Linked DNA regions of Homo sapiens: region 2 is linked to region 1. The links come from fine-mapping of genetic effects on gene expression. Tissue or cell type: blood mononuclear cells. Region 1 holds a variant in brackets; the other region holds the start of a gene. All regions are shown on one strand. Distances are between the middles of the regions.

Region 1 (8,099 bases):
TATGACTGGGCCTCTTCTGGAAAATCTAGCAAGGAGATTTATATAATTTTTATGCATAGCTGTGTGTCAGTGTCAGCCCTGTATTGTATTTGATTATCTCCTGAATAAAGTTATGATATTATATCTTAGGATTTTAGTCATTTTCCTTGGGCAAAGATTGAAAAAGAACATTGAAGGCTATATGGGTAAGGAGCGGGGAACTGAGTGGATCCAAATAGAAACAGATACATGATGCTTATGCAAAGAGTAAGAAGTAGACATGCCAGCTTGCCTACATCAAGTCTTAGAGCCTTCATTTTGGAAGAGTACAGTGGATTAAATTTGGGCTTGCTCTTGAAGAACTATAATCTCCAGAGGAGTGCTAGATACTCAGGCAGGTAGGGAACTATTTTCTCACTATGGGTATCAGTGTGGGAGTTATAATAAAGCAGCTGAGGCTGGGAGCAGTGACTCACACCTGTAATTCCAGCACTTTGGGAGGCCAAGGCAAGAGGATCACTTGAGCCCAGCTGTTCGAGACCAGCCTGGGCAACGTAGCAAGACCCCTGTCTCTGTGAAAAAAAATTTTTTTTTTTTTTTTTTAGACAGAGTCTTACTTTGTTGCCAGGCTGGAGTGCAGTGGTGTGATCTCAGCTCACTGCAGCCTCCGCCTCCCAGGCTCAAGCAATTCTTGTGTATCAGCCTCCCTAGTAGCTGGAATTAACAGGCATGCACCACCATGGCCAGCTAATGTTTGTATTTTAGTAGAGACAGGGTTTTACTATGTTGGTCAGGTTGGTCTCAAACTCCTGACCTCAAGTGATCCGCCCACCTTGGCCTCCCAAAGTGCTGGGATTACAGGCATGAGCAACCACACCCAGCTGAAAAAAATTTTTTTAATTAGCAAGCGTGATGGTATGTGCCTGTAGTGCCAATTTCTCAGGAGGCTGAGGCAGGAGGATCACTTGAACCCAGGAGGTCAAGGCTGCAGTGAGCCATGATGGCACCACTGCACTCAGCCTGGGTGACAGAGTGAGACCTTGTCTCAAAAAAAAAAAAAAAAAAAAAAAAGGCAGCCAGTGGCCAGCTCAGTTATAGGAAAGGACACAAGCCACTTGTGTTCCTGGTTCCCTTGGTGTGGTTTGAGAGCTACATTTTTCTCTAAAAGCAGAGGTTTGGAGGAGATTCCCCCTGAGGAACCAAGTTCAACAGTCTACTTAGCTTAGAACAAGGCAGAGTCCTGGCTGGTGTCAAAATAGGGGACTGTGGACAGAAACAGAAGGCCTCTACCTTTATTTAGAAGAGCCTACTCAGTTTCTGAAACCACTTTCCAAGGAAATTGTCTTGGGGTGATGGTGTGGATTTATTTACAAGACAATTAATGTCTTTGACTCAACTTTTTTTTCTCTTTTTTTTTTTTTTTTTTTTTTTTTTTTTTGAGACGGAGTCTCGCTCTGTCGCCCAGGCTGGAGTGCAGTGGCGCAATCTCGGCTCACTGCAATCTCTGCCTCCTGGGTTCAAGTGATTCTCCTGCCTCAGTCTCCTGAGTAGTTGGGACTACAGGCACCCACCACCACGCCTGGCTAATTTTTGTATTTTTAGTAGAGACAGGGTTTCACCATATTGGCCTTGCTGGTCTCGAACTCCTGACCTTGTGATCCGCCCGCCTCGGCCTCCCAAAGTGCTGGGATTACAGGCATGAGCCACTGCACCTGGCCAAAAAAATTTTTTTTAATTAGCTGTGCATAGTGGCATGTGCCTACATTTCCAGCTACTCAGGAGGCTAAGGTGGGAGGACTGCTTGAGTCTGGGAGGTTGAGGTTACAGTGAGCTATGATCATGTCACTGTATTACAGCCTGAGTGACAGCAAGATTCTGTCTCAAAAAAAAGAAAAAGGAATAGAGTTATGGAAAAAGCAGCGAAGACAGAGAAAAGGAAAGAAGCACTATGGGAAGGCACAGAGTTAAGAATGGGCAAATCATGTACCAAGGAGAGCTTTCATTTCAAGTGAACAAAATTTGAAACAAATATCCTATAGCTTCAATCGAGAATCTGGAGAGCTGGGGTTTGAGAAACATTTCAATTTCGACTGCCTGAGAAATGGCTTCCAAGGCAGTGGTCCTCACCCTGGCTCTCTAAATGGCATGGGGATGGAGAGTGAGCTATTTCTTGTATTCTTAAAAAGCCTAAAGAAAATGGGCTGGGCACAGTGGCTCATGCCTGTAATCCCAGCATTTTGGGAGGCGGAGGTGGGCAGATTGCCTGAGCTCGGGAGTTAGAGACCACCCTGGGCAACATGGTGAAACCCCATCTCTACTAAAATAAAAAAATTAGCTGGGTGTGGTGATGCGTGCCTGTAGTCCCAGCTACTCAGGAGGCTGAGGCACGAGAATTGCTTGAGCCCCGGGAGGCGGAGGTTGCAGTGAGCCAAGATCGTGCCACTTCACTCTAGCTTGGGCTACAGAGTGAGACTCTGTCTCAAAAAAAAAAAAAAGAAAAGAAAATGGAACATTTGCTTGCGACAGTTCTCCACACACTTTTTTTTTTTTTTTTTTTTGAGATGGAGTTTCGCTCTTGTTGCCCAGGCTGGATCGTGCAATGGCGCAATCTTGGTTTATTGCAATCTCTGCCTCCTAGGTTCAAGTGATTCTCCTGCCTCAGCCTCCCAAGTAGCTAGGATTACAGCATGCGCCACCACGCCCAGCTAATTTTGTATTTTTATTAGAGATGAGGTTTCTCCATGTTGGTCAGGCTGGTCTCGAACTCCCGACTTCAGGTGATCCACCTGCCTCAGCCTCCCAAAGTGCTAGGATAACAGGCGTGAGCCACCACCGCGCCCGGCCCTGCACAAACTTTTTTTTTTTTTTTTTTTTTGAGACGGAGTCTTGCTCTGTCACCTGGGCTGGAGGGCAGTGGCCCGATCTCAGTTCACTGCAACCTCCGCCTCCTGGGTTCATGCCCTTCTCCTGTCTCAATCTCCCAAGTAGCTGGGACTATAGGCGCCCACCACCACGCCCGGCTAATTTTTTGTATTTTTAGTAGAGACGGGGTTTCACCGTGTTAGCCAGGATGGTCTCGATCGCCTGACCTCGTGATCCGCCCGCCTCAGCCTACCAAAGTGGTGGGATTACAGGTGTGAGCCACTGCGCCCGGCCCAAACTATTTTTTAAAAAACTTCATTGGCTTAAAACTAGAGCACATGCAGGCTGGGCGTGGTGGCTCACGCCTGTAATCCCAGCACTTTGGGAGGCCGAGGTGGGTGGATCACCTGAGGTTGGGAGTTTGAGACCAGCCTGAGCAACATGGAGAAACCCCGTCTCTACTGAAAATACAAAATTAGCCGGGTGTGGTGGCACATGCCTGTAATCCCAGCTACTAGGGAGGCTGAGGCAGGAGAATCGCTTGAACCCAGGAGGCAGAAGTTGCGGTGAGCCGAGATCGCGCCATTGCACTCCAGCCTGCGCAACAAGAGCGAAACTCCATCTTAAAAAACAAACAAACAAACAAAAACAACTAGAGCACATGCTTTGTAAAAATACTCAGAACAGAATTATATACAGTAAAAAGTAAAAGATTGAACCATGCACCCTCAGACACCCCCCACACAAATACCCTGTTACTCCAATCTACCTCCCCAGAGTAACCAGAGTGATTTGGTGTGTAGATCACTGTGTGTCAGATCTGTTTCTATAAATATGCAACCATATGTACATAAATATTAGCTAATATTAGCTGGGCATGGTGGTGCTCTGATAGCCCTAGCTACTCAGGAGGCTGAGCCTAGTAGTTAGAGGCTGCAGTGAACTATGATTGTGCCAAGGTACTCCAGCCCAGGTGACAGAGCAAGACCTTTGTCTCTAAAAATCAAATCAATAAAGAAAAAGTTTTAAAAATGTGGCTAATATTATTATTAGAGTATGGCTGTATTATCATTTAACCCTTCCCTTCACGATATTAAGGTTGTTTCCCTCTTGCCCTGTTACAAAAATGCTTCATTGGATGTCATTGCACATATATCTTGCTCAGGTGCCTTTGCTTTCTGCTGGTATTACAGTAAATCAGTATATTAGTTATTTTATGGGAAAAATAAACTTTTTTTTTTTTTTTGGAGACAGAGTCTGACTCTTGCCCAGGCTGGGAGCAGTGGCATGTTCTCGGCTCACTGCAACCTCCGCCTCCCAGGTTCAAGCGATTCTCTTGCCTCAGCCTCCCGAGTAACTGGGATTACAGGCGCGTGCCACCACATACAGCTAATTTTTGTATTTTTAGTAGAGACAGGGTATTGCCACGTTGGCCAGGCTGGTTTCGAACTCCTGACTTCAGGTGACACGCCTGTCCTCGGCCTCTCAAAGTGCTGGGATTACAGGCATGAGCCACTGCGCCCGACCAGAAAAAAATAAACTACTGATTGAGCTTATGAATGTAGTCTGGTGGAAAAAAAAACTTTCAAAACAGTTCCTTCGTAGGGGAAAAGGAACAAAAATCATGTCCACTGCGGCCTGAGGGAGCACTACAGCTGTTTCTCTTGGTGCATTCATTCTGCACATTGACTGGAGGTGGAAGACTTGTTGGAGGTGCCCTTCATACATGCTGCTCTCTATTGTGGCAAATATGGGAAGGAGCTTTGGAGGACAAGTAGAAGGGTCTGCATGAAAGTGACAGCTGAGGGGCCGGGCGCCATGGCTCACGCCTGTAATCCCAGCACTTTGGGAGGCTGAGGCAGGTGGATCACGAGGTCAAGAGATTGGGACCATCCTGGCCAACATGGCAAAACCTCGTCTCTACTAAAAATACAAAAATTAGCCAGGCGTGGTGGTGCACACCTGTAGTCCCAGCTACTCGGGAGGCTGAGGCAGGAGAATCACTTGAATCTGGGAGGCAGAGGTTGCAGTGAGCCGAGATCGCGCCACTGCACTCCAGGCCTGGCAACAGAGCGAGACTCCTTCTCAAAAAAAAAGAAAGTGACAGTTGAGGGTTAGCATCTTGGACCTTAGCTG[C/T]TCTCTTTCCCTCACACTGCTTAGAAAAGATTTGCATTTACTGCCTCCCTTCGTTCTTTCACAGTCGAACCTCTCTTTACTTGCCTCTTACCACATCTGGTAAGTCTTATAGATTCTTCCCTTGTAATGAGAGGCAAAGGAAATCACCTTCAGAACTTGGAACAGGATCAACTCTGGGACTCTTGGATAAACAAAATCTGTTCCCTGAATATTTTCAGTGAAAGGTGAATATGGAGGTGTCCTGGGGAGTGACTGCATTCTTCCTCGGCCACCACAAACAGGAGACCCAGCGCCCCCTAAGGGCCAACTTTGGCATCTCCAAAGGAGAAGGGTGCCCCTCACCCTATAAAGAATCTCTCCATATTGGCTGGGCGCGGTGGCTTACGCCTGTAATCCCGGCAATTTTTGGAGGGGAGGCTGAGGCAGGCGGATCACTTGAGGTGAGGAGTTTGAGACGAGCCTGGCCAACATGGTGAAACCAGGTCTCTACTGAAAAATACAAAATTAGCCAGGTGTGGTGGTGCGCACCTGTAATTGGGAGGCTGAGGCATTATAATAGCTTGAACCTGGGAGGTGGAGGCTGCAGTAAGGCGAGGTGAGATGGGGCCACTACACTCCATCCTGGGCGACAAAGCAAGACTCTCTTTCGAAAAGAAAAAAAAAAGAATCTCTCCATATGATCCATCTTGAAGGACCTGGACTAGGTTTTGTTAAAGGAACTAGCAGGCTTCCTTATCCCTTGAGACAGCAAAAATACGAGTGAATTTACAATGGACTAAACAATGTGTAGAAATAATTTACTCTAAAAGATGGTTTGTTTTTGAGTTGCTGAGGTCCAGCCAAAGTGGCTAACTTCTGGTCTCAGGAAAAAACAACTGAAGTTTGGAGAGTCCTAAATTTACCAAGCCTGGCTAAATAGTGTGTAACCAACAGCAAATGACCTGCCTAGGATTTAGAAAAGGGTTATCTAAAGAGTAAGGTTGGCTGGGCGCTGTAGCTTATGCCTGTAATCCCAGCACTTTGGGAGGCCGAGGCAGGTGGATCACCTGAGGTCAGGAGTTTGAGACCATCCTGGCCAACATGGCGAAACCCTGTCTCTACTAAAAATACAAAAATTAGCCGGGCATGGTGGCTCGCGCCTATAGTCCCAGCTACTTGGGAGGCTGAGGCAGGAGAATTGCTTGAATCCTAGAGGCAGAGGTTGCAGTGAGCCGAGATCACACCACTGCACTCCAGACTGGGCAACAGAGTCAGACTGTGTCTCAAAAAAAAAAAAAAAAAAAGATCTATATATGATTTATTTTAAAGAATTGGCTCATTGGCTCATGTGATTATGGGAGCTGGCAAGTCTAAAATCTGTAGGGCAGGCCAGCAGGCTGAAAACAAGCAGAAGTAATGCTACAGTTTTTTTTTTTTCCAACTTTCATTTTAGGCTCAGGGGGTACGTGTGCAAGTTTGTTACATGAGTAAACTGTGTGTCACTGAGGGTTAGTGTATGAATGATCCCGTCACCCAGTTAGTGAGCATAGTACCTCCCTCCCTTCCCCTTCTAGCAGTCCCCAGTGTCTATTTCCATCTTTATGTCCGTGTGTGCTCAATGTTTAGCTCTCACTTATAAGTGAGAACTAGCGGTGTTTTGTTTTCTATTCTCACATTAATTTATTTTTCTTTCTTTCTTTCTTTTTTTTTTTTTTTTTTGAGACGGAGTCTTGCTCTGTCACCCAGGCTGGAATACAGCGGCATGATCTCGGCTCACTGCAACCTCCACCCCCTGGGTTCAAGCGATTCTCCTGCCTCAGCCTCCCGAGTAGCTGGGATTACAGGCGCCTGCCACCACGCCCGGCTAATTTTTTTGTATCTTTAGTAGAGACGGGGTTTCACCATGTCGGTCAGGCTGGTCTCGAACTCCTGACCTCAGGTGATCCACCCGTCTTGGCCTCCCAAAGTGCTGAGATTACAGGCATGAGCCACCGTGCCCAGCCCAGCCATGACTTTTTAATTTTCATTTTTTTTTTTTTTTGAGACAGAGTTTTGCTCTGTCGCCCAGGCTATAGTGCAGTGGCACGATCTCTGCTCACTGCAAGCTCCACCTACCGGGTTCACGCCATTCTCCTGCCTCAGCCTCCCGAGTAGCTGGGACTACAGGTACCCGCCACTGCGCCCGGCTAATTTTTTGTATTTTTAGTAGAGGCAGGGTTTCACTGTGTTAGCCAGGATGGTCTCGATCTGACCTCGTGATCCACCCGTCTCGGCCTCCCAAAGTGCTGGGATTACAGGTGTGAGCCACTGCGCCCGGCATGACTTTTTAATAATAGCCATTCTGACTGGTGTGAGATGGTATCTTATTGCGGTTTTGATTTGCCTTTCTCTAATGATTAGTAATATTGAACATTTTTTCCATATATTTGTTGGCAACATCTATGTCTTCTTTAGAGAAGTGTCTGTTCATGTCCTTTGCCCAGTTTTTTTGCTTGTTTGTTTTCTTTTTCTGGGAGACAGGGTCTTACTCTGTCAACCAGGCTGGAGTGCAGCTGCAGCCTCAACCTCCTTGGCTCAAAGGATCCTCCCACCACAGCCTCCCTAGTAGCTAGGACTACAGGCACGTGCCACCATGCTGGGTTTTTGTTTTGTTTTGTTTTGCAGAGACGTGGTCTCACTCTGTTGCTCAGGTTAGTCTGGAGCTCCTGGGCTCAAGCAGTCCTCCCACCTCTGCCTCCCAAAAGTGTTAGGATCACAAGGGTAAGCCACTGCAACGGGCTGAGAAAATTTTAAAATATTTGTTTCCTTTTTTTTCTTTTTTTTTTTTTTTGAGAAGGAGTTTCGCTCTTGTTGCCCAGGCTGGAGTTCAATGGCGCTATCTTGGCTCACCGCAACCTCCGCCTCCTGGGTTCAAGCGATTCTCCTGCCTCAGCCTCCCAAGTAACTACAATTATAAGTGCACCACCAGGCTCAGCTAATTTTTTTGTGTTTTTAGTAGAGATGGGGTTTTACTATATTGGCCAAGCTGTTCTTGAACTCCTGACATCAAGTGATCTGCTGACCTTGGCCTCCCAAAGTGCTGGGATTACAGGTATGACCCACTGCGCCCAGCCTTTTGAGATAATATATTTAAAGTGCCTGGC
Region 2 (8,082 bases), 24 kb after region 1:
GATTGACAACAACCGCTATTGCACCTTGGAATTTCCTGTGGAGGTGAACACAGTACTACATGGCTTTGCCGGCTACTTTGAGACTGTGCTTTATCAGGACATCACTCTGAGTGAGTGTCTATGGCAGTAGATGGCAGAGTATGAGGGTGTGCTTCCTGGGCAGCTTATATGTACATGTGTCATTTAGATTTATGGGGGGCCCAGTGCTCAATGAATGGAGATCTTTGTGTGATTAGAGAAGAGACCCTCTTCAGCATAGGCAAAAGTCACAGCCATGGAGACCTCTGTTTTTTCATTATTTTGTCCACACAGGTATCCGTCCAGAGACTCACTCTCCTGGGATGTTCTCATGGTTTCCCATCCTCTTCCCTATTAAGGTAGGAACTGCTTTTAAGACTCTCTAGTTAAGCAGTAACCTTTGCCTTTGGTGTTGTGCTTCTTTCCTTCTCCCAGGAAGATAGTTGACTATGACTCATGTTCTCCTGATTTCATATGCTCTTGGATCCCAGTGGTAGGTGTTGGGAGTATTTGGAGTGGCCTTCTGCCTGGCTTTCCCGCATCTACTCTGGCTACTCTTCTGTCTGTTCTCTACTTTGAGCAAGAGTCATCTTTTAAAAACTCAAATTTGATCTTATCTCTCTTGCTGTCTTTTTTTTTTTTTTTTTTTTAAAGAGACGGAGTCTCACTCTGTCGCCCAGGCTGGAGTGCAGTGGCACAATTTCGGCTCACTGCAAGCTCCGCCTCCCGGGTTCATGCCATTCTCCTGCCTCAGCCTCCCTGAGGCTGAGATTACAGGTGCCAGCCACCACACCCGGCTAATTCTTGTATTTTTAGTAGAGACGGGGTTTTACCGTGTTAGCCAGGATGGTCTCGATCTCCTGACCTCATGATCCGCCCACCTCAGCCTCCCAAAGTGCTGGGATTACAGGCGTGAGCCACCGCGCCTGGCCTGATCTTATCTCTCTTTTTTGCTTAAAACTCTTCAATGCCTTCCCATTGTCTTTAGGATAAAAGTCAAAATCTGGGACATTGCTTGTAAGACTTGATGTGATCGAGTGTTTGCTTGCCTTTGCAGCTACTGTCCCCTTGCTTACACTGCTTCAGCCTTATGGACCTTCTTTTTGTTCTAATTGTCTATCTTCTTTCCTACCTCAGGCTTTCATGCCTTTCTCTTGCCTGTAGAGTTCTTTGCTTGTCTCTTCACACAGTTAACCTATCTTCTAGGTCTTCTTTAAACATTTTTATTGTGAGATAAACTTTCTCTGATCTCCTAGACTAGGTTAGTGTTCCCTTTCATAGGTGTTTTTCTGACTCTGTACATGTTCACAGCTCTCACCACACCTTTGATTATTTGTGTTCTGATAGGCTTCAAATAACTTTCATGAGGGTTGGGACAGTCTTGTCATGTTTATCATTTTATCTCCACACCTACCTTAATACATTGCCATGTATAATTCATAGCTTCACCCTGAACCTTCCTGTCTTTCTTCTTACAGCAGCCCATAACGGTACGTGAAGGCCAAACCATCTGTGTGCGTTTCTGGCGATGCAGCAATTCCAAGAAGGTGTGGTATGAGTGGGCTGTGACAGCACCAGTCTGTTCTGCTATTCATAACCCCACAGGCCGCTCATATACCATTGGCCTCTAGCCCTGCGTGCCAAGTGTCCAGAGCCTTGGAAGCAGCTTCAGGTTCTGCTCCTGTAGTACAGAAGGTGCAGTACATCTATGGGCTGTGATTCCCCTTGCCCATCAGAGAGGAGCATTTCAATCTGCTTTCCTGCCTTACATCAAGGTGGGCAAGGGATTATAATTAATTGCAGGGCTCAAGCCACCAATCTATGAAGACCTCAGGCCAGGGGGTGAGGAATTAGTGCTGGATTTGAAGCTACGCACTCAGCCTCAAGAACTCCCTGGAATATCCCTGAGAACATGGGGTTTGAACGGATTTTCAGCCTTTTTCTGTTCTTGTTTTGATGGTTTTGTGTAAGAGGAAATACAAATAAAGTTATAGCCCTTTACTGCACGACCATGCTGCCCCCTGCCACTATTTTCCCACACCTCACTTAGACCCAGGCATGTTCAGATCTGTCCTCTTAGCCTATCCAAGACCCAAAGGGGCCTAGTTGTATTCCCTACTTAGGAAGCTGAGCAATGACTATTGTAGTCCTGGATATAGGCCTTTCTGACCAGCTACAGTGAGCTCTTGTCCATTAGAACCTACAGTTAGGCTTTTCTCTGGGGAGGAGGCATAGAGTTTGCCACCTTGGAAAAAGATGGAATAGTGAGTGAAGCCAGTTTCTCTTCTGTATTCTTGAGCTACTGCACGGGCAACTGGTTACCTCTCCTTTGTTACCTCTTGGGAAGACTGGAATCCATCCAGGAATCTCCAGCAAGAAGCTACCTGTTTTTTTTGAATAAAACCACAGGGTTACAGTTTGAAGTCCTAAGAGATCATCTAGTCCAATTTTCCATTTTACAGAGGGGGAGTTTGAAATGGGTACAATGATGTGATATTAGTATCCAAGTCAGAATTGGAAGTCAGGTCCTCCGACTCTGGCTCTCCCCATGTTATAACCAGCTACATTTTTGGTAGCTACAGTAGACCACAGAAGTGTCTAGGGGCTCCTGGAGGCCCCTGGAAAGTGAGGGTGGACATCAGTTCCTTCTTTCCGGTTAGAGGACTCAGTACTGCTACATCCAAGGAGTCACCTGAGAAACTTTCAAATTTACCCTTGCAGTGGGAAATGTGGGGGTACTGATTTGAACGGAAGTTATGACCTGTGGGAGCAGGCCATGACGATAGGGCAGAGTGTGGGCCAAGACAAGTCTGTGGCAAGATCTGCTTTTCCCTGGTCCCAAGCACCGAGGTCAGGAGAGGTGGTCGGGAAGGTTGTTTAGGTAGCCGGCTCAGAACGGGGATTTCGAGTTCAGCATCCCCGGACGTTAAACAAACGCCGCTGTTCTCTACAAAGCTTAACCTTAACGACCGACGTGACTCCTTCAGCAAATCCGAGTAGGGACGGCCAAGGATGTAAATTGTGCCTCCTCGTTGGCTCCGCCCATCGCACTGGTCTAGTCTACGCGAGCACCAGGAGTGGGGTTGGTGGCTTCTTCACTCCCGTTTTCAGTCCCGTTTTCCCCGCCCTCCGCAAGTCATTTAACCAATGAGAGAGTGATGGGCGGCTACCAAAGGACGCTTCCATTTTCTGGAGTCTCTGAGGTTAGCCAATCAATGGGAACTCGGTGGTTGCTAAGACGCATTTGAGTTTGCTCCACCCATACTTAGGACTTTAGCCAATGAGAACCTGTACTTTGGACGGTTGCCGCGAAACCAGTGAGGTTATTTCCAAAGCCGGGGAGTCTTGGCGCATGCGCAGATTGGGGAAGGTTCTGGAAGACGGCAGAGCTGCCGCCATTTTGCGGGAAGAGGAGGCTCTGTACCTGCAGTGCTGCTTTTCTTGCCTAGACTCTAGGAACTATCCGAGCTCCACTCCCCACAACATACTCAAAGGAACGGAGAGAACCGGGACCCCCCTGCGGGGACCCGGAACTGGTGAGAAACCCCAAAACCCGGTCCCCACCAGACGTCACCAATGCGTGACGTTGCTGCACGGCGCCTCCCCCCTGACGTCACGGGCAGAAAATGGCGTCACGAAGAGATTCAGGCGAACTTTTAACATTAAAAAAACCTTTGTTTGTTTTGACCTGGAAGTGTTAGCTACTTAAATGTAGCCCACTGCCACGATTTTAGAGTTGGGCACCCTCGTGGCTGTATCTTGCACCGATAAAGATGCGGTTTCTAGAATCCTGTGATTTTTCTTTCCGGGTCTCTGCAGCCGTGACACTTAGGGTCGCCCACACTGGAGAGGGAGCATCGACCCTCCGCGGCCTGAGAGGACACGCATCATCAGTTTCAGCCACTCGCACCACCATTCAGAGAGAGAGAAGGGAATTGAGCTTTCTTCCTCAATCTCTAGTCTGTCGAAGATTCATGTTCACTATGTTGACCTTTATGGGCTTTTCCCATTTAACTTTTTCAAGCACTCATTCCAGTAGGCGTATTATGATGCCACATATGAAGATTGAGCCCTGGGACACTGGCTCCCGCAGAGATTGTGCCAGTTGGTTGCCTATAGGACCTCTTTTTTTTTATTTTTTTAAGGCGGAGTGTCGCTTTGTCACCCAGGCTGGAGTGGAGTGGCGCGATCTCGGCTCACTGCATCCTGTCTCCCGGGTTCTAGCGATTCCCCTGCCTCAGCCTCCCGAGTAGCTGGGATTACAGGCGCCTGCCACAACGCCCGGCTAATTTTTGTATTTTTAATAGAGATGGGGTTTTGCCATGTTAGCCAGGCTGACCTCGAACTCCTGACCTCAGGTGATCCACCCGCCTCGGCCTCCCAAAGTGCTGGGATTACAGGCGTGAGCCACCGCGCCCGGCCTATAGGACCATTTTTTAAAGCTACACAACATGGGGAGGGTGGTCCTTCAAGTAGCTTTTATCGTTCTCATTGTTCCTCTTTTGTTAAGCTGCCTTCAGTTTGTAGGTGTTTGTGCCCAGCTAAGTGATCAGACCCTGGGGATGGCGCTACCATCACCCCTGGGGCTCCAGCTTTTCGTGAATTCTTCCCGAATTGGTCTGACAGTGGTTCTCTCTGCTCCTTTAGCAGTGGGGTCTATCTGTTGGCTTGTGCTATGACGAGGTCTAGGAACTGACGTGATTGTGGGTCTCTAATACTGTTTTTGGAGCAGGATGGAAGAAAACATACTCTATGTGGATGAGATTGAGTGGACCTTGACCCATAAGTTGGGACATGAAGAGAGCGTTTGAAAACTACCAACCTGGGCCGGGTGCAGTGGCTCACGCCTGTAATCCCAGCACTTTGGGTGGCCGAGGCGGGCGGATCACGAGGTCAGGAGATCGCGACCATCCTGGCTAACACGGCGAAACCCCGTCTCTACTAAAAATACAAAAAAAAAACAAAAAAGAAGAAAAAAGAAAAAACTACCAGCCTGAAAATGCATAGTGTTTGCTACCTTATTGCTTTTAGCACATCTAGAAAGACACTAAACCCAGTGAGATTGCAAGTTTCAAAATATTGTGTTGTATATGGCTTTGCTTAAACGGATATATTTGTTTCTGAGTGAAAACTTTTTACGTAGAGGTTTATTTGTAGAGGCTTGTAAACTTAAGTGTAAGTTTTAGTGTGTGTGTTAAGTTGTTCTTACCCCGCATTAGCACTCAACAATGAGCAGTTCTTGAAATCAAGCATTTCATTTGGAGGGGAAAAAGCAGATTGTAAAAAATAGTTCATAACAGAAAATTTGTGTAGACTTGGCAGCAAAAATGACTGAAACAGCTTGAGTATAAAAAACTTTTCTTTTTAGGCCGGGCTCGGTGGCTCATGTCTGTAATCCCAGCCCTTTGGGAGGACCAGGCAGGCGGATCACCTGAGGTCAGGAGTTCGAGACCAGCCTGACCAATGTGGAGAAACCCCGTCTCTGCTAAAAATACAACATTAGCCAGGTGTGGTGGTGCCTGCCTGTAATCCCAGCTACTTGGGAGACTGAGACAGGAGAATTGCTTGAACCTGGGAGGTGGAGGTCGCAGTGAGCCGAGATTGCGCCATTGCACTCCATCCTGGGCAACAAGAGTGAAACTCTCTCAAAAAAAAACAAAAACAAACTTTTCTTTTTAGAACTATTTTCCCATAGTGTATATTAGTCTAATACCTTTAAGCATACACTGTACATGCCTCAGATATAGGAGACTCACAATGAGGTTTAGCTAATGGGACTGATTATTTTGATAAACATATGAGAAGAACATTCATGTTCAGTGAGTATATATTTAAAAGTAGGTATCTTGGTATACTGTGTCCTTTTTTTTTTCCTTTAAAGTTAATTACAAACCATATGAGAAGTAATCTGATATAATAGATATAATGTTAGATTTGAAGTCAGAAAACCTTTCTGATCAAGAATTAGCTCCTCTGGCCAGATGTAATCCTAGTACTTTGGGAGGCTAAGGTGGGTGGATCTGTTGAGTCCGGGAGTTTGAGACCAGCCTGGGCAACATAGTGAGACCATGTCTCTACCAGAAAAAAAAAAAAAGCCCAAAATATGAAAAGTTAGCCTGGCATCATAGTGCACACCTGTGGTCCCAGCTACTGGGGAAGCTGAGGTTAGAGGATTGCTTGAGCTAGAGAGGCAGAGGTTGCAGTGAGCCGAGATTGCAACATTACACTCCAGCTTGGGCAACAGAGTGAAATCCTGTCTCAAAAAAAAAAAAAAACATTCTTCCCTTTGAGCTGTGTGACCTTCTCTGTTTTGGGGATTGAGACAGAATCTCAATCTGCTGCACAGACTGGATTGCAGCGGCATGATCACAGTTCACTGCAGCCTCAACTTCCTGGGTTCAAGCGATCCTTCCATTTCAGGCTCCTGAGTAGTTGGGACTACAGGCACGCACCACCATGCGTGGCTAATTTTTATATTTTTTGTAAAAATGGGGCCTCACTGTATTGCCCAGGCTGATTTTGACTTGGCCTCAAGCCATTCTCCAGCCTTAGCTTCCCAAAGTGCTGAGATTGCAGGCGTGAGCCACCCCCTCTGCCTGGCCCTTGAGCTATGTATGACTTTGAGCAGTTCAAAAAACGTTAGTTTTAAAAAATTTGGGTATGAATCATATATTACCTGTCTGCAGCATTTGTTACCTTTGATTGCTAAATAAATATAAAGTGTTACTGGAAGAAGTAGAAGGCCGGGCACAGTGGCTCATGCCTGTAATCCCAGCACTGGGAGGCCGAGGCAGGCGGATTACCTGAGGTCAGGAGTTTGAGACCAGCCTGGCCAACATGGTGAAACTTTGTCTCTACTAAAAATACAAAAATTAGTGGGACGTAGTGGCGGGCACCTGTAATCCCAGCTACTCAGGAGGCTGAGGCAGGAGAATCGCTTGAACCTGGGAGGCAGAGGTTGGCGTGAACTGAGATTGTGCCACCGCACTCCAGCCTGGACAACAGAGCTAGACTCCTTCTCAAAAAAAAAAAAAAAAAGCCAGGCATGGGGCTTATGCCTGTAATCCCAGCACTTTGGGAGGGCGAGGCGGTCGGATCACCTGAGGTCGAGAGTTCGAGACCAGCCTGACTAACACGGAAAACCTGGTCTCTACTAAAAATACAAAATTAGCTGGATGTGGTGGCGCATGCCTGTAATCCCAGCTACTCAGGAGGCTGAGGCAGGAGAGTTGCTTGAACCTGGGAGGCAGAGGCAATTGAGTTTACTGGTTTTTATGTATACCAATTTGATTTGGGTTTAATTTCCATTTAAGCCTTAAATTTGGCTCCAAGTAATTTTTCTCTAAGAATCTTCTCTCTCCATAACATGCTTAGCACAGTGTCTAGCAGTTGTAGGTACTGTAAGTCATAGAATCATAGTTGTAATTATTACACTTATTTAATTGTCAAAATAGGATATGGACTCTTAGGGCAACCAAGGCAGCATTGTTGCATAGTGCATTAGCTGCTTTAAAGAGGACAAAGTTCCTCTTTTTTTTTTTTTTTTTTGAGATGGAGTCTTACTCCATCTTACACCCAGGCTGGAGTGCAGTGGTGTGATCTCGGCTCACTGCAACCTCTGCCTCCCAGGTTCAAGCGATTCTCCTGTCTTAGCCTCTTGAGTAGCTGGGACTACAGGCGCCCACCACCATGCCCGGCTAATTTTTGTGTCTTTAATGGGGATGAGGTTTCACCATATCCGTCAGGCTGGTATTGAACTCCTGACCTCAGGTGATCCACCCACCTTGGCCTCCCAAAGTACTGGGATTACAGGGTGAGCCACCACGGCTGGCCAACAAAGTTCTTACAGTTATGAAAAAGTCTGATTATGATAGCCTCCTTGCATAGAAATTCCTCAGGTTTTTTTTTTTAACGGCATGATTGAGGTACATTTAATGGGCACACGATAAAACTGTATACATTAAAGTGTACACTTTCATGCGTTTTGATATGTTAAACACCCGTGAAACCATCACTCCCAAAGATTTGTTTGTTTTTGTATTTTTGAGACAGTCTCGCTGTGTC

The links. PIP is the estimated chance that this variant, and not a neighbour inherited with it, causes the effect.
Region 2: RBM23 starts here. The variant in region 1 is fine-mapped to the expression of RBM23 in blood mononuclear cells (TOPMed, PIP above 0.99).

The regions. Positions count from the first base shown.
Region 1 is chr14:22,938,257-22,946,355 of GRCh38, reverse strand. It overlaps HAUS4 (HAUS augmin like complex subunit 4), which reads left to right. Exons shown (of 10, transcript NM_001166269.2): 10 at 1-128. The region is part of intron 2 of PRMT5-DT (PRMT5 divergent transcript); the gene reads right to left. Among named protein-coding and RNA genes, the nearest start is that of TRR-ACG1-3, 13 kb to the right of the region's middle. The variant C/T (reference allele first, on the strand shown) is at 4,978.
Region 2 is chr14:22,914,471-22,922,552 of GRCh38, reverse strand. RBM23 (RNA binding motif protein 23) reads left to right here and starts at 3,404. Exons shown (of 14, transcript NM_001077351.2): 1 at 3,404-3,554. It overlaps PRMT5 (protein arginine methyltransferase 5), which reads left to right. Exons shown (of 17, transcript NM_006109.5): 15 at 1-110; 16 at 313-377; 17 at 1,497-2,024. The coding sequence ends at 1,649. It overlaps PRMT5-AS1 (PRMT5 antisense RNA 1), which reads right to left and starts at 3,097. Exons shown (of 2, transcript NR_120600.1): 1 at 1,433-3,097. RefSeq lists a silencer at 3,030-3,329 and enhancers at 3,590-3,659, 3,750-3,859, 3,930-4,099, 4,588-5,352.